3 separate regions of the Homo sapiens genome follow, and regions 2 and 3 are each reported to be linked to region 1. Evidence: microRNA targets listed by miRTarBase, many of them from high-throughput screens and not tested one by one. Region 1 holds a microRNA gene; each other region holds the end of a gene's coding sequence.

Region 1 (7,194 bases):
GCTCCTTGCCTGCTGTAAGCTCTTGTACAGCCATAATGGGACTCTGCACTTGGTAGGTGCAGGTGGAGTCTCACTCTGTCACCTAGGCTGGAGTGCAGTGGTGCCATCTCGGCTCACTGCAACCTTCACCTCCTGGTTCAAGCGATTCTCATGCCTCAGCCTCTCGAGTATCTGGGACTACAGGCATGTGCCACCACGGCCGGCTAATTTTTTGTATTTTTAGTAGAGACGGGGTTTCACCATGTTGGCCAGGCTGGTCTCAAACTCCTGACCTCAGGTGATTCACCTGTCTCAGCCTCCCAAAGTGCTGTGATTAGAGGCGTGAGCCACTGCACCTGGCCAGAACAACTGTTTGTTGGGTAGGTTTTGGATGGGGTTTCAGTCTGGTTCATTAGCACCACCTGGTGGCTGATGATGTTTGTCACATCTACTTCTTAACTGGATGGTTGATGTGTTTCTCTGTAGAAGCCATGGTGCAAGAAAAATTAAATTACTTAAGGACACATTCTTGCACATTCCATGTGCATAATAGGTGCGGAATGAGTGAATGCCCTTGAATTATTTATATTTTGAAAGAAAGCAGGCACATGCAGATCAGGTATTTTGCCACATTCTTTAAAGCTTTATATTTTGGGAAAGTTTAAATACTTATTAAGAGAGGATATAGGGAAAGTTAAATACTTCATCTCTGCCCTTGGGAAATTTTCAGGCTTTTGGGAGTAATATAAATCGAAATATTTAGTAATAAAATTAGTAAGCTGGTAGCTCTCAGACTAGCTGATTATCAGAATCATCTGGGCAGTTTTGCAAATGCAGGCTCTCAGGCCGCTTCACTAGAGATTCTATTCCGGGGGTCTGGGGAAGGACCCAGGAACCTGTATTTTTTAGCATGCTCTCCTGTTAATTCTGGATTTGTTGGTGTGAACCTGAGCTGGAATCATCAGGGGTGGCTTCCTAGAGGAGATGGGCCTAGAATTGGCATCCCTTTGCTTGGTGGTAGAGTCCCCACTGTGGGCCAAGTGTTATGCTGGGGGCTGGGCCTCCGTGGTGAATCACATGTGGTTCTGGGCCACTAGGAGCTCATGGTCTAATGTGGAAAGTTTCCAAACAAGTAGTTACAGTTCAATGAGATTGGTGCCAAGAAAAGTATATGCAAAATGAGTCCAGGTACTGAAGAGTCAGCACACGATTTCCAGGGTGGAGACATCTGAACCTCTCGCAGGTTTTTAGGGAGAGGAAGAGCTTGTAAGAGCACACAAAAGGGAAACAACATGGCGCATCTAGGGAACCAGAAATAGTTTGGTATGGCTGGAATGTGGAGTAAATACAGGAAAGTAGCACGGGACTGTGCTAGGAAGGCAAACAGGGACCAGACTGCACTCTGGCCTGATAGCCAAGGGGAGTCATGACAGTGTTGTAAGCAGGTGAGCCCCCTGACTGCTGGCCTCAGGTGAAGGGTGGGGAGGGCTGGGCAGGAAGGGCAGGGCCTCTACTGAGGTGTTGTGTCTATAGAGAATGGAAATGATGCCGGGCATGGTGGCTCATGCCTTTCATCCCAGCAATCTGGAAGGCTGAGGCAGGCGGATTGCTTGAGCCCAGGAGTTCGAGACCAGCCTGGGCAACATGGCGAAATGTTAATTTCACCCATCTATACAAAAAATAAAAAAATTAGCATAGCTGGTGGTGTATGCCTGTAGTCCCAAGCAGGAGAATTGCTTGAGCCTGGGAGGTGGAGGTTGCAGTGAGCCACGATCTCCCCATTGCACTCCAGTCTGGGCAATGGGAGTGAAACCTTGTCTCCAAAAAGTAGAGAGAGAAAATAGAAATTGAAATGAGGTGCACTGGGCACTGAGGCAAGGCTCTGGGGTTGGAGCAGTTAGAATGGTGTGCCTTTGCACATGTCTCCCTTTCCACCAGGACATTCTGCTGTGGCCGCTGGACTCCGGAGTCTGTGATAGGCCTCTGCCAGGGAAGATCTCTGGCAGTGCCCCTACACACCACTCCCTACTGTGCCTGCCTACCTAGAAGATGACGTTTCTAGGTGGGGACCAGGATGCCGTTCCACCCTCACTGCCTGTTGGGCCCTTCTCCCTGGGTTTGTAGTCTCCCTAACACCTGTCCCTATCCCTACAGGATGTGTGCCCCTGTGATGGTGGAGCTGGAGGGGGAGACAGATCCTCTGCTCATTGCCATGAAGGAACTCAAGTAAGTCACTCAAATCATGGTTCACTTCTCCAAATCTCTGGGAGGCATCTGTTGGGCTCTCTGTTGCACCCTTTGCTCCCACTTGCCTGGCTGGAGAAGTTGATGCTTATTCCTACAGATCCTTAGGAACAGCTCACCAGGAAGTAGGAGGAAGAGAGAAGAGGAGGCAGGGAAAGTGGGAGGGCACTGATGAGACATGGACGTCTTCTGGCTGTTGGAATTTCCCTGTTCCTGCTGCAGGAGGCCTTACCAATATTCTGTCATTCTTCCCCCTCTTGTCTGATATAAAAACTTTCTTTTTCTTGTAATTGCTTTCTTACAAAGTACACTCATCAGCCCCAAGAGGCTGCTCCTAAGACTTCTCTTTGCTTGTGTTTTGCACACAATCTGTTCCTTCTGCGGCAGAGCTGGGGTCACCAGCCCTCATGTACTTGTGACTTCTCCCCTGCCACAGGGCCCGAAAGATCCCCATCATCATTCGCCGTTACCTGCCAGATGGGAGCTATGAAGACTGGGGGGTGGACGAGCTCATCATCACCGACTGAGCTGGAGTCATCTTCCTGCCCTTGCCCCATGCCCAATTTTCATTCTCACTTTATATGTGTAAATAATAAAATATTCAACTTTCCAACCCCCTTCCCCTCTGCTTATCTGCAATGTCACCACCTGTTGCTTCCCCGTTACCGCCATGCTGCGTGGAGCATGCACCTATTCCAGTGGCCCTGTGACTGTCAGCTCCTTAAGAAGCACCAGGGGCCCTTAGCCCCTTTGGATCCCCCACATCCTTCCCTCCATCTCCCTGTTCCCCAGAGCAAAGGCTGCTGCAGGGGAGACACCTCAGCTGCCTTCCAAGCAGACAGACAAGTCTTTGTGCCCAGGGAGCTGGTTGCCACGGAAACCCCCAATTTCCTTTCCAGTGGGGACTGGCTGCAGGGGCTTCTCCCTTCTCAGGAGTATCACAGAGCAGGTCTCATCAAGCCACCCATTGTTTCCTAAGGACCTGCTTCGAGCCTCTTATCGTGGGCTCGGATCCCCTTTCAGGAGCAGTGCCCCAGCAGGAAGCGTGGGGGTGTGCTGATCTCCCACCCTCCCCAGGCAGAGCCCTGCTGGGCAAGTCAGCAGCTGGAGCAAGGACCGAGCACCTGCCTACCCCTGCCCCCATGGCTCTGTCCCCACTCCTCCTCAGGACTCTGCCCACACGCTGTCCTCTGTGGCCCACCTCTTTGGTGTGCCACACCCATGCCTTCTTCCTAGCCTCTATAAGATATCCTTTCCCTCCTATTTGGGGCTGGTGATCCCCTGAGGCCTTGGGGACATGGTGCTGGGGTGGTGGTGCTCCTGGGTTCCAGGTGTTACATTAAGTCAGAGCTGGAGTTCCCCCTTCCTCTGCCTGAGGTTCTAATGGGTCCTCTTCCTTTCTCCACCCTGCTTACCCAACCTGAGGTAAGACCAGTCACACTGGCTCCTCCCTCCTAGAGGGGGTCAGGGGGAGGGTGTATATTGACATGAACAGGGATAGAGGGTAAACTGGCTCCCTGAATATGCCAGCCTTAACCTCCATTCCACTGCCAGCTCCCCTTCAAAGAGGAGGAGCTGGGCTTCCCTAACCTCTGCAGGAGGCAGGGCCTCCAGGCCTAGGTGCAGCCTGGCCCTGGGATGGGATGTGGGGAGTGAATGGTGAGGATCTGCATTGGTGGGAGGGGTGTCCGCTGCCCTGGAGAAGGGTTAATTCAGGGAGCAGTGGACTTCACACTCCCATCCACCCTCCTCCAAGCCTGTGGAATCCTTTAATCAAGTTGGGTGCTGAAATTTCAGCTCTGAAATGCCGCCTTTGTGCTGGCATCCAGGCAGCCGCCCCAGAGTGCGGGGGTCACTTTCTCGGCCCCATTTCTCTAAATGGTCTCTTTGTTCCCTGCTGGGCTGCTCAGTATCAGATGTGATTAAAGGGAGATGGGGTTTGGGCTGGGGAGGAGGGGAATTGGGGGTTAACCCTTAGGGGATAGAGTGCAAGGGAAATGGGACAGAAGGGGTGTTTTTCCTCCTGTCTTCCTCTTCCCATTCTCCTCTTTTGGGGAGTCCCCTGCTATTCAGCTGTCTGGGCCTGGCTTTTGACTTCTCTTGAATAAAATGTCCCGGTCACCACTATTGGTTCTGTTTTCTTAGGGTTTGGGCATAGTCTCTTGAGTCATTTCCAGAAACACCTGACCCTTTTTTAACAAGTGGAGCTCCTGCCTTCCTGAGGCCTGTGCACACTTGGAACCTTTGGTCTAAGGGATGCACACAACCCAGGTCTTCTGACTTCCTTGGGGTCATTTCCCCTCCTTCCACATCCTCAGTGATTTCCCACTCACTCTCATGAGATGTGGGGTCTTGGAGGTGATAGTGTCATCTTCCGGATGTGCCCCCTGCTCCCCACTGTGCCAGCTCCATATCCCTCATCCCACGGCGAGCAGGAGTAGTGAACAGACCACAAATGGACAAAAGTCCTGCCTTTCAATGAAGGGGAAAGGGTGGGTTGTAAAGATTATAAACACATAAGGTTAGTACTGATTGATCCATGACAAAATTCTAGAATAGGTCCCTCCATGTTTAAAAGTGCTTATATAATAAAGAGGAGATCGGGCACTAGCATAGGGTGTCTAAGAACCAATATTGCCAAATAAGTTTTTTTTTCGATGGTTACTGGTCCAGTAGGTTGAGAGAATGCCAGAGATCAGTGAATCTTGATTTTGACAAGGCATCAGTAGTCTCCATGCCACTGTGACAGAGAAGTGTGTGCTTCATGGTGATGTAATTAGACAGTTTTAGAACTGATTAGACAGCCTCAAGAGTGGAGATAATAGCTGGGCGTGGTGGCTCACACCTGTAATCCCAGCACTTTGGGAGGCTGAGGTTGGCAGATCACGAGGTCAGGAGATCAAGACCATCCTGGCTAACACAGTGAAACCCCGTCTGTACTAAAAAATACAAAAAATTAGCCAGGTGTGGTGGCGGGCGCCTGTAATCCCAGCTACTCGGGAGGCTGAGGCGGGAGAATGGCGTGAACCCGGGAGGCGGAGCTTGCAGTGAGCCGAGATCCCGCTACTGCACTCCAGCCTGGGCGACAGAGAGAGACTCCGTCTCAAAAAAAAAAAAAGAGTGGAGATAATAGGCCAGGTGCGGTGGCTTACGCCTGTAATCCCAGCACTTTAGGAGGCCGAGGCAAGCGGATCATGAGGTCAGGAGATTGAGACCATCCTAGACAACATGGTGAAACCCTGTCTCTACTTAAAAAAAAAAAAAAAAAATTAGCTGGGCGTGGTGGTGCACACCTGTAGTCCCAGCTACTCGGGAGGCTGAGGCAGGGGAAGCACTTGAACCCAGGAGACAGAAGTTGCAGGGAGCCAAGATTGCAACATTGCACTCCAGCCTGGCAACAGAGCAAGACTCCATCTAAAAAAAAAAAAAAAAAAAAAAAAGAGTGGAGATAATAGGACTGACAGTGGAGAGAGGCGTTTAATGCTGTACACAGGTGTCCCTCTTCATTTCGACCTTTATTAGTGACTTGAATGAGGCTATTCAAGTTTGCAGATACATAAAGCTCTAAAGGAGAGCTAAGTTCTAAAAAGTTTAATACAGGTGGGGAAATGGGTCAAACCCAACAAGGTGAGATCTGTTAAAGATCAGTGTAAAGTCCTGCTTTTATCTAAAACAAAACAAAAACAGCATACATACAATTTGGATATGACTTTGCAATGGATATTGTCTAAAAGATCGGGGTTTCGGTTACCATCCAGCTTCACGGGAACCAGCAGTTTTGGGGAGGTTGCTTGAAGAGCTTCCATGATGCAGGTCCTAGATGGAGGGATTTTGGCCACCCTGGGGACTGGGCTACTTCTTGGTGCCCTGCCTCTCCCCTGGTCCTGACTAGGGGCTGGAGACCGCAGATGGAAGGAAGGGAGCTGAGGATGCCCAGTCTGGAGCAGTGGAAGATGCATTGCTCCAGATACAAAGCAGAAGCAGGGGCTGCAAACCACAGGCAGGTGGAGGGGATGATGGTTAAAAATGCAAGCCTTGGAGTCAGAGCTGGGTTCAGATTCTGGCACCAGCACTTCTTAGCATCAGCCTCGCAAACTTCAGTTTCCCCATCTGGAAAATTGAGATAACGATCGGACCTACCCCTTCACTGGCCTGAATGACATAAAACCCTTGGTGGAGCACTTAGTAAATGGCAGCTGGATATAAGCTGTTATGAGCTGGGTATGAGGAAGAACTTCCAACCATCGGAGTTGTTCATCAGTGGAGCAAGATGGCAAAGAGTCTTTGGAGTTGTGTGCTTGTGAGGTGGAGTGGTCCTGGCCTCTGGGTGCAGTTTGGACTTCTGCTGAGGAAAGAGCTCTTAGGGAGTAGGCGCTTAAGGAGTAGACTGTCTGACATCCTTGGTCTGGACTTGGACATGGGCACCTGCTGTGAAGGCTTGGCTAGATCCTGGCGTGGGCTGCTGTGTGTGTGCTGGGGGAGGTGGCAAGTGGGGGGATGCAGCAACACAGGGCCTATCCACACATCCTGAAGGACAGGCCTCTGACTGCAGGCAGCACGGTGTCACCCTCAGCCCACCTCCTCCTCTTCAGATACCTGTCTCTTGAATTCTTTGCAAACTCCCGTCTGCTGAGTGCTGGGTGAGCAGAGGGGCTGCTTGCAAGGCAGTGAGTTCTAGCTGAGCCAGTTAAGAGTGAGTGGCCCCCCTGCAGTGTGGGGCATAGCCGCCGGGCTGGGGAGAAGTTCCCATCTGAGGCTTCAGTCCCTGAGCTCAGATGGACCCCACTGGGATGCCAGCTGTCCTAACACTCTCCATTGTTCCCACTTTCTTAGCAGGGAGAGAGACAGAAAGAGAGAGAGGAGAGTGGGAGGGGGGAGAGAGAGAGAAAGGAGAGGGGGAGGGGGGAGAGAGAGAGAGAAAGAGAGGAGAGAAGGGAGGGGGGAGAGAGAGAGGAGGGGGGAGGGGAAGGG
Region 2 (7,194 bases), not on the chromosome of region 1:
TGTTGGTTAGGCTGGTCTTGAACTCATGACCTCAAGCAATCCACCTGCCTCAGCCTCCCAAAGTGCTGGGATTACAGATGTGAGCCACCACACCCGGCCTGGTGTCAGGATTAAATGAACCCTTAGCACAATACCTGGCACAGAGGAAGAACTTAATAAATGTTGGAATTTATTTATTTATTAGATGGATAATAATGGCTCTTCTTAATGGGCTGAGCATTTACTGTCAGGCATTGTGCTAACAGGTTTACAAGCATTACCTCATTTCAGTCCGTTAAATAACAGTATGAATTGTCCCTTTTACAGGTGAGAAAACTGAGGCTCTGAGTGAGATGGGAACAAAGGATGGACATAATCTACCATTAGATGCTCAATATGGTTATTATTTATCTTGCAGCCCATAAAGATAATAATGCGATCCGTATTTATTAATCTAGGAAGATGTCTGTTAAGTGAGGGCTAAGCTATACAATAATATGAACAGTATGATCCCATTTTGCTTATCAAAAGGCATCACTAAAATGTTATCATTAAATGATCATCTCTGATTAGTGGGATTACGGGTGACTTTCGTTTTTCCCCTTTTACTTTTTTTAGTATTTGATAATTTTCCTCCAGTGGGCTTATGAGCCTGTGTTATTTGTGTAATTAAAATTACATTTTGAAGATTTAAAAAATTGTAAGAACGCTGTCCCTGCGAATGTTTAATTTAGATTTTCTCTGCAGGTTGTTTTAAAGGAAAAACAAAACCAAAAAAAGCACCTCCTGCTCTGACCACCCCTATTTCCAGTTTTCCCTTTTGGCACAGCAAAGATGACCTTGGGACTGAGGTGGAACCATGTAATTCTTCGTAATCCCAGAGTCAGGCAGACCTGGGTATGAATTCCATCTTTACTAACTGTGTGACTCACTGTGTGGCCATGCCAAGTTACGAGGTCTCTCTGTTTCCTCCTTCCTAAAAAGGAGATAACATCCATCTCGAAGGAAGATCTGGCCTGAAGAGCAGTCACTCTTGCCTGGCATGCAGAGAATGCCAAATCATATTAATGACTGGCCAGAATGAAGTGCGTGACCTCATCACTCCATAACTGACAGGAAACAACTGCTAGGGCAAGAAAAAAGGGTCTCCAGTGAGTATTCTTGTCCACACACATCCCCACTCACGTTCCTGGACCACTGCATCTAACTGCCGCAGCAGCTAATGAACCTTCTGGAATAAAGGACCAGTTTCTTAAGAAGGGATTGAGACCTCCAGTGGCCTCCCACATTGTTTCCGGCAAGAATTTAAAAATTATTTGTAACATATAGTAATAAAAACTAACCACAGGCTGGGCGCAGTGGCTCACGCCTGTAATCCCAGCACTTTGGGAGGCTGAGGCAGGTGGATCACCTGAGGTCAGGAGTTCGAGACCAGCCTGACCAATATGGTGAAACCCTGTTTCTCCTAAAAATACAAAAATTAGCTGGGCATGGTGGTGGGCGCCTGTAATCTCAGCTACTCAGGAGGCTGAAACAGGAGAACTGCTTGAATCTGGGAGGTAGATGTTGCAGTGAGCCGATATCGCGCCATTGCACTCCAGCCTGGGCAATGACTCCGTCTCAAAAAAAAAAAAAAAAAAAAAAAACTAACCACAGCTACTATTTATGAACTCTAGTGCCACACCCCATTTCTTCCCAGGTTTCACCCCCTCTTCCCAGGTTTCACCCACCCCAACCAGTGTTGTTTGCAACACTTCAGCTTCTCTCCTCACGAAGCACGTCTCCAGAGACGCCTCTTCCGCAACTTCCCAGGGAAGCCATTTCTGCCTGGACCCACCACAGCTCCCAACCTGTCACGCACCCCTGGAGGGTTTTGCTCTGTAATCCTGATTTAGAAATCCTCTTATATGAAACCACTGTAATCCACATCTGGTTAGACAATTGGAAAAGTTCATTGAAAGGAGAAATAATAAAAATGGCATCCATCCCTTAAATGTTGTATGCCAACGTAAAACACATTCGACAATGACCCTGGGCTAAGGCTCTACCTTACAGAGAAACCTGTATCGGTGTTCCCCTCCATTTTCCTTACATAAACCAACCAAAAATCTTCAGTTGTTCCGTTCTCTGTCTCTCTCCCTCTCCACACCCACCTTCCCTCTTCCTCTCTCCCTCCCTCCCTCTCTCTTTCTCTCTTTTTTGAGACAGAGTTTCACTCTGTCACCCAGGCTGGAGTGCAGCGGCTAGATCTTGGTTCACTGCAGCCTCCACCACTCCCCCCACTTCCCCCCCGCCGCCCCTGCCCCCACCGCAGCCTCCCAGGTGGCTGGGACTACAGGCCACCACGCCCACTAATTTTTGTATTTTTTCTATAGAGACGGGGTTTCATCATGTTGCCCAGACTGGTCTCAAACTCTTGGGCTCAAGCAATCCTCTCACCTCAGCCTCCCGGTGCTGGGATTATAGGCGTGAACCATCGCGTCCGGCCTCCCAAATCTTTTACAGTTGTCTTGTTCACTTCTCATTCAGCAGCATTTTGAGTTGGGAGGGGTAACAACTCACCTTAATCAAGTCTCTCTAAAGCATTCAACTTAGTTTTACTAGGTTCATTTCTTGTAGCTCATTGGTTTAACTAATAGTTCCCCAAATCACATCCTACCAGTATAAAAGCACAACTGGTATAAACACGTTTGGGAACACACATAACTCAAGTATCAGGATGTAAGAGCGAGAGCATGGGGAGAGTTAAGAATTTCTCACAGACTGATTCCCTCCCACATTCATCCCTGGTGTGTTTATCCGTGTTAGGGCTGTTCTGATGAAAGTCTTGTAGGACTTGGCAGCAAGATGGGAAAGATCCATGGAAGTCCATTGCTCATAGCTGATGATGATCTCTCATTGCTGAGCTTAGGGTTGAAAAAGGAGTGCCAGGTCCTTTGAAATCAAGAAGAATTTATGAATCACCTTTCATTTATGGAGCCCTTAGCTCAAAGCTCTAAAGTTAGTCTTTTCTCAAGATTATATCCTATTTGGGAATGCTCATAATGGTCCAATCACCATTTGTGAAAACTTACTGTGTACCAGCAATAAACACTCTTCTACATAGACAATCTCATTCTAATATAATTTCTGTGCACGTTATAGATTCTATTTCTGAAACAGCCCTATGTGGTAGTTTTATTACTATCCTCATTTTCACCCAACAAATCTGAGGCACTGAGAGGTTAAGGACCTGGACTGAAGCTGCACAGCTAGAAGGTGACAGACCCAAGAACATTCTGTAGGGACTCAATAAAGGAATGACTTAATCTAAGGGGGCTTGACTTTCTTTCTTCTTTTCTTTTTTTTTTTTTTGAGACGGAGTCTCGCTTTGTCCCCCAGGCTGGAGTGCAATGGTGCGATCTCAGCTCACTGAAACCTCTGCCTTCCAGGTTCAAGCGATTCTCCTTGCCTTAGCCTCCTGAGTAGCTGGGATTACAGGTGCCTGCCACCACGCCCAGCTATTTTTTGTATTTTTAGTAGAGATGGGGTTTCACCATGTTGGCCAGGCTGGTTTTGAACTCCTGACCTCAGGTGATCCACCCGCCTCTGCCTCCCAAAAGTGTTGGGAATACAGGTGTGAGCCACTGCACCTGGCCAAAGGGGGTTTCACTTTTTTTTTTTTTTGAGATGGAGTCTCGCTCTGTCGCCCAGGCTGGAGTGCAGTGGCACGATCTCGGCTCACTGCAAGCTCTGCCTTCTGGGTTCATGCCATTCTCCTGCCTCAGCCTCTGGAGTAGCTGGGACTACAGGCGCCCGCCACCACACCTGGCTCATTTTTTGTATTTTTAGTAGAGACGGGGTTTCTCCATGTTAGCCAGGATGGTCTCGATCTCCTGACCTCCTGATTGGCCCACCTCGGCCTCCCAAAGTGCTGGGATTACAGGCGTGAGCCACCGTGCCTGGCCGGGGTTTGACTTTCTGATCATCCTCACAGATCTCCTTTTCAACTCTTCTACCTTCTCTCCTCTAGAAGTGAATTCCATTCTGGCTGTGATTCCAGCCTTTGGGTCACCCAGCCCCAGTCAAGGTAGAAAGAATCACACCATAATATTTCTGAAAATCAGCCTTTTAATCTAGTTGAACCCAACGAGTGGGGAAAGAACTAAAACATTTTTTTCCCTTCAGATTTTGATTATAAGAATAACGGGTCAGAGGTGTCTCTTCCATAGGAAACTGACATCCCCTATGTCCTCAGAGTTGTTTTTTTTTTTTTCTTCAAAAAAATGCATAAAAGAATTTCAACTCATGTGCATGCCACACATTTCCATCCCCACCCCACCCTGCCCCACCCTCTACAGGCACACATATTCACACACCAAAGGGACTCCTTCCTGTAACTGGGGAACAGAATGTAAAAAAATCCATCCAAGTGGCCACCGATACCAGAAATAACCAAATGCATTTACACTCACAACATCAGTCAACTCACATGCACAAGGAGAAGCGTCTCCAATCGGAGCTTAGAGCCAAAAATTACAAATGGCAGAGACTTGAGCTATCCATAAGATAATTTTAAAAATCCTTCCACTGGACACTCCCCTTCATTACAAAAGTATGCAAACAATCTTGCTATAAATGGAAAACAGGCGTGTGGCTCTCTCCCTGGGACATGAGGGCATAGCTAAAATTCCCTGGGTGGAATTAATGCCTGGACCATTGCTCCTCCCTTTCAGGACAAAAGGGAAAGGATGAAGAGGAGCAGCAGGGTAGGGACCCACCTCAGGAGCAGGTGGGGCACCCTGGAGCTGCCTCAGGGGCTGGGAACGTGTTGGCATGTGACCAGCTGATGGAGGAGCACAGTGTCAAGTGGGCCACGATGGCTGTAGAGAAACCCAAGTGCTCTGCACCCGTAGGGAGTCCAGAAGGTAGAGGTCCACGGACAGGACAGGCCTGGCCTGCTTTGCTTCCTCCACCTAAGGCCTTGGGACCGATGGCGTCCGTCTGAGAGGCTGCATGATTATTTTAGGGTTGCAGGAAGGATGCTTCCCATCTGGACGTAAGTGCACAAACCATGTCTATCTGGATCTCAAAAGATGACTTCCCCTTTACACAACCCCCACTCCCTGCCACTGCAGATCCCAGCAGAGTGGTGGGAGATCTTGGCAGTGGGAACCAGAATGCTGTTGCCACACAGCACACAGGCTGAGGCACATTGGTGGAGGGTTCAGAGGAACGAGGAGAAGAGAGGAAGAGGAATCTGTGACCCGCCTTGTGACTGGTGGGCAGATTCAAGTCTCTACCGCTGCTGCTGAGCAACTGGGCATCTGCTTCTTGGAAGAACAAGAAAGGGGTGGGGTAAAGACTTGAGGCCTGGGTTCTAGGTTGGGCAGGAAGGGATGGGGCAGAAGTCAGGGTTCCATCTATAGTGACAAATCATAGGGGCTTGCTTGGGAAGTACCATCTTTCGTGGAAGGTGCCGGGTGTATAAAGGAGTACCTTTGGGCAGCCTGGTCCCAAAGCTGAAAGCCCAGGTCTGGTGCCTCTGGGGCAGGTTGGCTGCCCAGGGGAGAAACCAAATCATTAATGTGTCCACCTAGTGGGGGCTGCGAGATTGTCGAAGCCTGGCTGAGAGCTGATCGATATGCATTCTGGGATGTTCCCCTGAGGGAAGAGACTGCAGCTCTCCTAGGAGGGGTCCCCAAGATCCCTGGACTCCCCACCCCTTGCCTGACTCTGTTCTTGGGGCTCCCCAGGGAAAGGGGAACTGCAACTTCAGGCAGTGTAATTTGTCTAAAAAGAAACACGGGGAAAAGAGGTAGCTGCAAAACATCGAGCCATCCTCTACTTTCCCCCCACTTCCCACACACCCTTTGGGACACAGCCAGATTTGGGACCAGATTGAGGGCCAAAGGAGACAGGGCACTGGAGGCAAGGCTGGCGATGCCCAGGGTCCTCGGCCATTAGGCTGGGTGTGGCGTCAATGCATCTTGCCCAGCTGGATCTTCTTCCAGGCCTCAGAGGCTGTGAAGATGCATGAGTCCAGGATGCCGGCGACGGTGAAGGTCCCGCCAATGATGGCACAGATCTGCAAGAGGGCAGGGGTGGGGTGGGAGTGTCAGAAGTCAGTGCTGGAGGATGAACCAGGCCAGACCCCTCCCACATCATGAGATGATGGGCTCTGCAAGGCAGACATTGCCCGTTAAGCCCATAATACCCACTACATAGTCACCAAGTCCGGAACATACTTAGGGCTCAAAGAAAACCAGTTGTTGGATGGTGGATTTAATAATAATAAAATAATTTTCACCATTATGAGCTCCTTTAATTCCCATATTCACCCTCTGAATGAGGAAGGGAATTATTAGACCCATTTCACAGCGGAGGAAACTGAGGTTCATCAGGTGACTTGCCTAAGTTCACCACTAGCAGAGATGCAACTTGAACACAGGTACGTCTTAACTCTGGAGCCTGTGGTCTTAACCTCAACTCTGAATTTATCACATATTTACAATCCCATTTGCAGATGAAGGAAATGGAGGTTCTGAAAGGCAGTCCCAGGGGCCCAAGGTCACACAGCCAAGAAATGGCATCCTGGGACTTGATGGGTAGTAAGCAAATAATCATACCAATAAATGCAAAATTATAGCCAAGGCAAGTGCTACAAAGGACAGAGAGGCCTTTGGTGCTACCAGAAAGCTTCTATTAGAGCAAGGTTTCTTTTTCTTTTTCTTTTTTTTCTGTCTTCCAGGCTGGAGTGCAGTGGCGTGATCTCAGCTCACTGCAAGCTCCGCCTCCCGGGTTCACGGCATTCTCCTGCCTCAGCCTCCCGAGTAGCTGGGACTACAGCTGCCTGCCACCGCGCCTGGCTAATTTTTTGTATTTTTAGTAGAGACAGGGTGGGGGTGTTTCACCGTGTTAGCCAGGATGGTCTTGATCTCCTGACCTCGTGCTCCACCCGCCTCGGCCTCCCAAAGTGCTGGGATTACAAGCATGAGCCACTGTGCCTGGCCAGGGCAAGGTTTCTAATGGCACCATTGACATTTGGGGCCAGAGAATTTTTTGCCACAGGGGCTGTCCTTTGCAGAAGGATTTAGCATCCCTGGCCTCTACCCAGGAGATGCCAATCATACCCCCCCCCGCCACGCTGTGACAACCACAATGTCTCCAAACATTGCCAAATGTCCCCAGATGTCAAAATTGCCCCTGGTTGAGAATGGCGGTAGCAGGAGGATA
Region 3 (7,194 bases), not on the chromosome of region 1:
TTCCCCTGCTTCAGCCTCCCAAGTAGCTGGGATTATAGGTCTGTGCCACGATGCCTGGCTTTTTTTTTTTAGTTAGTAGAGATGTGGTTTCACCATGTTGACCAGGCTAGTCTCGAACTCCTGACCTCAAGTGATCCACCTGCCTCAGTCTCCCAAAGTGCTGGGATTACAGGTGTCAGCCACCATGCCCAGTCTTTGTATTAATATATGAGCTGTCCAGGGAAGGAGCTGTGACTTTGGTCAAGCTGATTTTCTTTCAGTGAAGGTAATTCCTATAAGGGGTTATATCTTGAGGGCCACTTACTGTCAGCATTCCCTGCACCTAGGGAATTAAATTTCACTCCTGAAAGGGAACCCATGTGGCACATCCTAGTGTCTAACACATTGAGTTAATGAGCAGGATTCTTGTCAGGTTAAACAGGTGACTCCCCAGAGATAAGGCCAATCTTGTTTTAACACTCCCCCCAGTAATTTCTCAGAACCAACAACTTCACAGTGGTGTGGACAGAGCCACATGTTGTATGCTCCTTGTGCTCCTCCAGTCTAACAGTGAAACAAACGCTGCCACTATTGGGAGAAGCTGCTGTCACATCCTTCGGAAGAAATAAGTCCCCTGCAAGTGTCCCAGAGGGACTCATTTGATTCTGTTCAAAGCTTAGTTTGCATTTTCCGCATTTGCTTATAGAGATTTAGAGGGTGTGAAAAAGGGAAATGGGTAGGAGAGGACATTGATGGGTAATATGGTACTTTGGCAACCAGGTCCTTTTTCAAACTGCCTTTTGCATGTTCCTAGATCTTCCCTACAAATTATTGGACAGTGTATTGCAGAATGCTGTGGCCTGGGAGCTCCTTCTTAGGTCAGCCCCAACCCTTGAAGAAAGCACCCACTGGTGTCTGTCAGTCTCCCTGAAACAGAACTCACCTCTTGGGGACGTCTTGTGCCTCCGTCTCTGACCTTATCCTAGAATCAAGACAAGCCAATTAAAACAAAAAGCAAACACAGGGACATGTTACAGAACTCCAAGTAAATAATGCCCTGGAGAGAGGAGAAAAGACATTCATTCCCTTTCTAGTTAATGTTTTCCTGCCCACAAAGAGCTCTGTTACCTCTGAGCTACCAGAGTGCTTTTACCAGAACCATCTTCAATAACTGTGTATGGTTTTTTTTTCTTAGACAGAGCCTTGCTCTGTCGCCCAGGCTGGAGTGCAGTGGCGCTATCTCGGCTCACTGCATGCTCCGCCTCCCGAGTTCACGCCATTCTCCTGCCTCAGCCTTCCGAGTAGCTGGGACTACAGGCGCCCGCTACCACACCCGGCTAATTTTTTGTATTTTTTAGTAGAGACGAGGTTTCACCGTGTTAGCCAGGATGGTCTCAATCTCCTGACCTCGTGATCCACCCGCCTCGGCCTCCCAAAGTGCTGGGATTACAGGCAAGAGCCACCGCGCCTGGCCCTCCCTGTGGTTTTTAAAAGCTCGCCTGCATTATTCTATCAAACTGTTGCCTCTGGACTCACTATGTATCATTTTGTTAATGTTTTGTTTCCCCAACTAGATTGTGAGTACCCTAAGGGCAGGGAACAGGATTAAACTTGTGTCTTCCCTAATAAGCACCTTGCTTTCTGGTTCATCTTAGATACTTAAAAAACATGTTGTTTGAGGGGAATTAATGATGTTTTATTTTTGTTCCATTTATCTGACCTGATGAAGGTCTCCTGGCATTGATTAGGTCTGATGATCCATTTCTGGGGTGGCTGTGGAGCAGCATGGTGTCCCGCATGCATTTTCTAAACTTGCTCTATCTGAAGAATCACCAAGGCATTTATCTAGAGCTCCACCTTTGCCTACTGAAATCAGAATCGCCAGGGGAGGAGCCTGGGAATCTGCTCCTCCCCAGAGACTCTCATTTGGGAAATACTGGTAGTGAAAGAACAAAGCACTAAGGTTTAAATCCTGGCTGTCATATGCTAAGGGCCCTTGCACAGATCTCTGGCCCTCAACTACCTCATCACTACACTGGGGATAATAATACCTCACAGCACCCGTGTGAGGATTAATAAGGTAATATGTATGTGAAATCATTAGCATGGTGCTTGGTACTCAAGTAGGCACTCTTGACTCTGAATATCACTGACATTCTGCCAAACCAGTTTCAGGAGCTTAAGACATTTCCTTAGGTCAGAGGCAAATAGCAAGTTGTTGTGAAAGAACAGGTAAGGGCTATGAAGGACTGTTTCTCAAAACAGACTAGCTGCATCAGCTAGTCTGAGGATCTAATCTCCAGAAATCTTTATTTTAGCAGGCTTCCCAGGTTATACTTACGCACAGTAAAGTTTGAGAACCACTACTCCAGTCTCCTTTCCCCTCCTTTATTTTTACTAATGAATTGGCCACTGATACACAAATGGTGGGTGGACAGGCTCTCATTTCTCAACTAGTTTTATAGAAATTAAATTAAAAATTATTCCTGTGGAACAATGCTCATTGCCCACTTCTGATTCATTAGGAAAACACATCCTATTTTGAAGCCAGTGTTTTGAAAGACAGTTGAAGTTCCATTTCAAGGACTAAGCATCAGAAGCACTCCTTATGAATTCACACACACACACACATACACACACACACACACAAATTGACAAGGCAGCACTGCTGACAGGCTATTAAGGGAAACCGGATATGCTAGTATTTGTTGAAATGATCATTAATTTGCTTAAATGCTGAAAACTTCAGATATGTAAACATCCACACTATTTGAACATTTTTTAGACATCAAAGGATTTTCAAGTGCTTCTCTCTGGCTTGCATTTGCTAACATTGCAGCAGCAACAGCGCTGGAGTAGTTGAAAAGGGATGCATTAATCATTTGTAAAATGAGAGAGCAGAACAAGATTATGCTTTCTTAAGCAGAAATACATGAGCCATGGATGGCTTCAGGGTCTTTGGATCCTATGAAGCCATCAAACAAATTTTGCATATAGGCATATTCATTTTTCTAGGGATAAACTCCATGGCTTTTCTAAGATTCTCAAAAAGGTCCAGAACCACCAAAAGGTTTAAAAAATCACAGACTGGATTATTGTAAAGGCTTTTTCCAGCTCTAAGACTCTAAAGAAAATCAATGTCTTAGTTCCTTATGGAGTCTAACCTGGATGGGTCATTGACTTCATTTGTTTTGTCAAAGCCACAGTCAAGTGCTCCCTCTACACCACCCCCTCTTCCCAACAAAATATGCCCAAATTGTGCCATTTTTCACTTTGTACAAACAAGACTATTTCCCCCCAAACAGCAAGATTTAACTTGTTTTAATGCAGTCTGCTATAAAAATGAAGACTTCTGCATGGTATATTTGGCTTTACAAACGTTAATGCCTAGTTAATGCTTGTGTTATATGGTACACATCATTACAATCTGTTGGCCAGTAACAGCTTTTGCAACATGGGTTAATACTAAAATTGTGAATCATGGAACTTTTACTTAGCACACACACACACAATCTACAGCAAACTTAAATACTAATCTATAATACCTAACTGGGTTATTGGATCCATTGCAAGATTGTGCTTATTTATCTCAGAAGGTAGGCAACTAGCAAAAATACACATTTCTTTCGCATATCCCCACCCCCATATTACACTGTAAAAGAAATACATTATTCAGTGCACTTCCTAAGAAATAAACTTCCTTATAGTATCTCTCTCTATATATATCTATCCCAAAACAAAGGAAGAGCACAATGCAACTTTTAAGATTACCATTTAAAGCAAAAGAGACAATAACTCTCTGGCACTGTAGCCTCCTCTCCAGTTTAGAAAGTTTAGCTATTTTATCAACACTATTCGTTTTGGCTCTGCATAGGAATAAAGTTCAATGCATGATTGCCTTGGACAGTTTAAGATACCCCCTACATCATTTTGATAGACACCTTGGGGCATTAGTAGCATTTTTATTTTTCATGTATTTGCCTTTATCAAACTATAAGCTGTGGAGTTGCCAATATACTCCATTGTGATTTATACACTGATTTCCATCACCTGCCTTTTTACTATCAACTCTTATTAGATTAAAAGGAAATAGACTTAAATTATAGCAGGAGGTCAGGGCTGCTGGATAGATGTTGGCTCAGAGAATGTATGTGAAGACACCAAGGCCTCTCCTGTATGGACACAAAATCATATAACCACTGTGTCTGAGCTGGGTTGTGGATAGTCTTATTTGGCAGAGGGGGATAGCCATTATATTCTATGAACCTTGCCAGCTGTACTGGCCTACACAGTTGGAAAGTTTGGAGGCTTTTGTCCGCATAGACTTGCTATGATGAAAATGACAGAAGTTTCTAGAATGAAAGAGGTTGCAACTTGGCAGCTTGCAAGCTAAATCCAGCTGCAGACGTGTTTGTTTAACCAGCACCATTTAAACATTTTAAAATCACTTCTTGATATTTAAAAATGAGAATGTTTCTCATGAAAATTTGGATTTCAAAAAATGTGAAGAACTGGTAATCCTGGTTTAGCATTCTTGCACCGCAGCAAGCAGATGGAGCTGAACAGATGCCCTTTTTAAATGCGGCTTGGGCACTTTAGTTTGCCACAGCTCCCACTGCTCCCAGCTGTTTTACATCGCTTGTGTGAGAGGCCTGTTTCACTCATTTATATGACCAGTTGAGTTTTGTGACACTGGGGTTAGTTTAGCTCTGCCTATTTATTTTTTTAATAGAGATGGGGTCTCACTATGTTGATGAGGCTGGTCTTGAACACCTGGTCTCAAGAGATCCTCCCATCTCAGCCTCCCAAAGTGATAAGATTACAGGCATGAGCCACTGTGCCTGGCCAGCTCTGCCTTTTTATGATACTGAAGATCTAGGCTTCATTTGGAATTTCCTCACCTTCCTGTGGACAAAATTCCTCCTTTGATTGTGTCCCAGCCACATCTAGTTGCTTCGGTAGGTAATCTTAATGTGCAGTTCTACTTGTCCTTTATGCTATATTGCAAACTCCAAAGATATAATCACACTAGTATTTATGTGTTTAAGTGTGTGTATGTTAAACATGTAAAGGGGTAATGTATCTATACAGATATATGTATACTTCCCATTTAAGCAAAAGTTAATTTGGTTTTACAGATACAGATACCAGGTTCTGGCAGCTTGGAGAATAAGTGTAACAATTTGGTAAAACTTGTATAATTCTGACTGACCTATAATATTACAGAGTGAATTTCAAGTTATTGCTTTTTGATTACAGAATAAAAAATTCATTCTCTTGCAAAACTTTTATACAGAATGAGTAACCATTTCCTATTCAAGTAACAGCAATCAGAATCAGAAGTTCCTTACACAACAGTAGATGCTTGAGACATTTTTTGAATGGAGATGTGATTTCATTCTGTTCAAGAACTTATGCAGGAAACTGGGAGTGACTTAATTTTTCAAAAGTACAAGAAAATCAGCACCCCAACTGCTTAGTGCTCAGGAGGGTTTCTCAAGGGCTCTATAAAGCTCAGCTTGTGGTGAGTTCACACCCACCTTTAGAAGGATTCCCATTCTACTTATGCAGCCTTGTTTCAGAACACAAAGCTTGTATTAAAACATTAAAAGAGGATTAAAAGCAGTGTTGGTTTTTAACATTCAGAATTCACAGAGGATCTCATTTTCTGTAATTAAATGATCTATTTTGTGTTTTTTGCTGCAGAATCACATTCATATGGCAGTCATATTTCAGGCACTTTTAAAACATGTTCATCTGGAATAAAAATCTGCATGAACCACTTCTGCATAATTCAAAATGAGTGTTGAGTGATTCTAGTTCTCAAATAGATAGCAAATCACCACCTGGTGATTCGCTTTCTTCATCACAACATGACGGTGACTGCTGAGCTTGAGACATCTTTGAGGTGCCTTTCTGGCTTCAGTAAAAAGATGTGAGCCATAAAAATCCAAACTACTCAGTTTCTACTTAAAAAAATACAAAATGGTGAAATATACTAAATGTATTATACAGATGGTTTCAGCTACTATCAAAATAAATAACATAATCTGACTCAGAAGTCTGACTGAGCTTTTGGACGAAATCTGATGGAATGTCAAACGTGGAGACTCCCTCCTAGGGACTAGCTGCTGGTAGGCAAAAGTAACTCAACATCCTTACCATTTGCTACAACAGTATTGGAAGAGCAGCTGCTGGCAAGGTCTTCTGCAGTGGTCAAAGAGGCTGCCTGGGAATGAGTTTTGGTCAATGGAGTGGTAGCAGATGGAGAAGGGGTGAGGCCAGGTTTCTTGGGTGGGATGGGTGGAGGGTTTCCTCTCTCAGCTCTGGGGATGGTTGGGGACTTGATTCCTGGAGACAGGGGGCTCAGGGGACTGGACACTTTCCCTGGAGTAGGTGAATGGCTTGTGTCACCTCTTGGATTGGCAGTGTTGGCTAGATTTCGATAGTCTGTGCCAAAGGGAGAGCTGTTGGGAGAGACTGGCTTGATTGGCCCTTGTTGGCTAGTGAATCTGGAGAGCACCTGAGTGACTGTGTTTCGGGCCAGCTGCTTGGCGGCAGAGTTGTCTATGAGGGTGGGGGATAAATCCCTGGATGGAGGGCTCTGTAGGCCACTGGCTTGTTGGTCCTGATCTGCTTGGGACTGAAATTTGTGGCGAGCTGCATGGAACCGTTGGTTGATCCCTACTTGGTACGATGACTGGTAGCCAGGGCTGCTAGCTGATGACCCCAATAAACGCTTAGTGAGTACCGGCGAAGAGCAAGGAGAGGATGTTAGAGAGGAGGAGGCAGTGCTGCTGGGAGACAGTGAGCTCCCACTGGAAGAGAGGGGACTGGGCATTGGGACTGGAGTCTCAATCCCCACAGGACACCCACCATTCTCCACTGGTTTCTCTTGGGCCAATGCCACAGATTTTTCCCGTGGAGGCACCTGGTTTTCTACATTGTTGCCTGCAGTCAGCTCCCTGGTAGTTTGTATCTCTGGGTCACAATGGCCATTGGTTTTTGCATATGAGTAAGCAGGAGTGGCAGGACCAGGCAGCCCAGTGTTTGTCATCTTGGCTATGTTGCTCCCATGGGTTCTTTCTGCTGGAAAACTCTCTGTTTGGCAAAACACAGACATTAGCATGAGAGGCTCAGTTGCTGTGCCTTTGGACACGGTTACTGGTTTCTTCAATTGCTCATTAGGGCTACTGTGCTGGTGGGAAGCCTCTA

What was found. The annotated mature microRNA hsa-miR-6820-3p reads UGUGACUUCUCCCCUGCCACAG and lies in region 1 at 2,638-2,659, shown strand. An mRNA with a match to its seed (bases 2 to 7 or 8) in the 3' UTR can be bound and repressed. Matches are read on the target gene's strand: a 7mer-m8 pairs with bases 2 to 8, a 7mer-A1 pairs with bases 2 to 7 and ends in A, and an 8mer does both.
Region 2: miRTarBase lists ERGIC1 as a target of hsa-miR-6820-3p. Seed matches in the 3' UTR shown: 7mer-A1 at 5,232-5,238.
Region 3: miRTarBase lists CTTNBP2NL as a target of hsa-miR-6820-3p. Seed matches in the 3' UTR shown: 7mer-m8 at 5,410-5,416.

What each region holds. Positions count from the first base shown.
Region 1 is chr22:37,964,966-37,972,159 of GRCh38, forward strand. MIR6820 (microRNA 6820) reads left to right here and starts at 2,598; the gene lies at 2,598-2,659. It overlaps POLR2F (RNA polymerase II, I and III subunit F), which reads left to right. Exons shown (of 5, transcript NM_021974.5): 4 at 2,134-2,205; 5 at 2,660-4,347. The coding sequence ends at 2,750. RefSeq lists enhancers at 1-440, 2,674-3,174, 3,557-3,851, 6,781-7,194.
Region 2 is chr5:172,949,561-172,956,754 of GRCh38, reverse strand. It overlaps ERGIC1 (endoplasmic reticulum-golgi intermediate compartment 1), which reads right to left. Exons shown (of 10, transcript NM_001031711.3): 10 at 4,072-6,046. The coding sequence ends at 5,939. It overlaps RPL26L1-AS1 (RPL26L1 antisense RNA 1), which reads left to right. Exons shown (of 4, transcript NR_026682.1): 4 at 727-1,973. It also overlaps a transcript of RPL26L1 not described here. Among named protein-coding and RNA genes, the nearest start is that of RPL26L1-AS1, 6.2 kb to the left of the region's middle. RefSeq lists an enhancer at 485-1,684.
Region 3 is chr1:112,456,322-112,463,515 of GRCh38, reverse strand. It overlaps CTTNBP2NL (CTTNBP2 N-terminal like), which reads right to left. Exons shown (of 6, transcript NM_018704.3): 6 at 2,352-7,194. The coding sequence ends at 6,104. MIR4256 (microRNA 4256) reads left to right here and starts at 1,683; the gene lies at 1,683-1,746.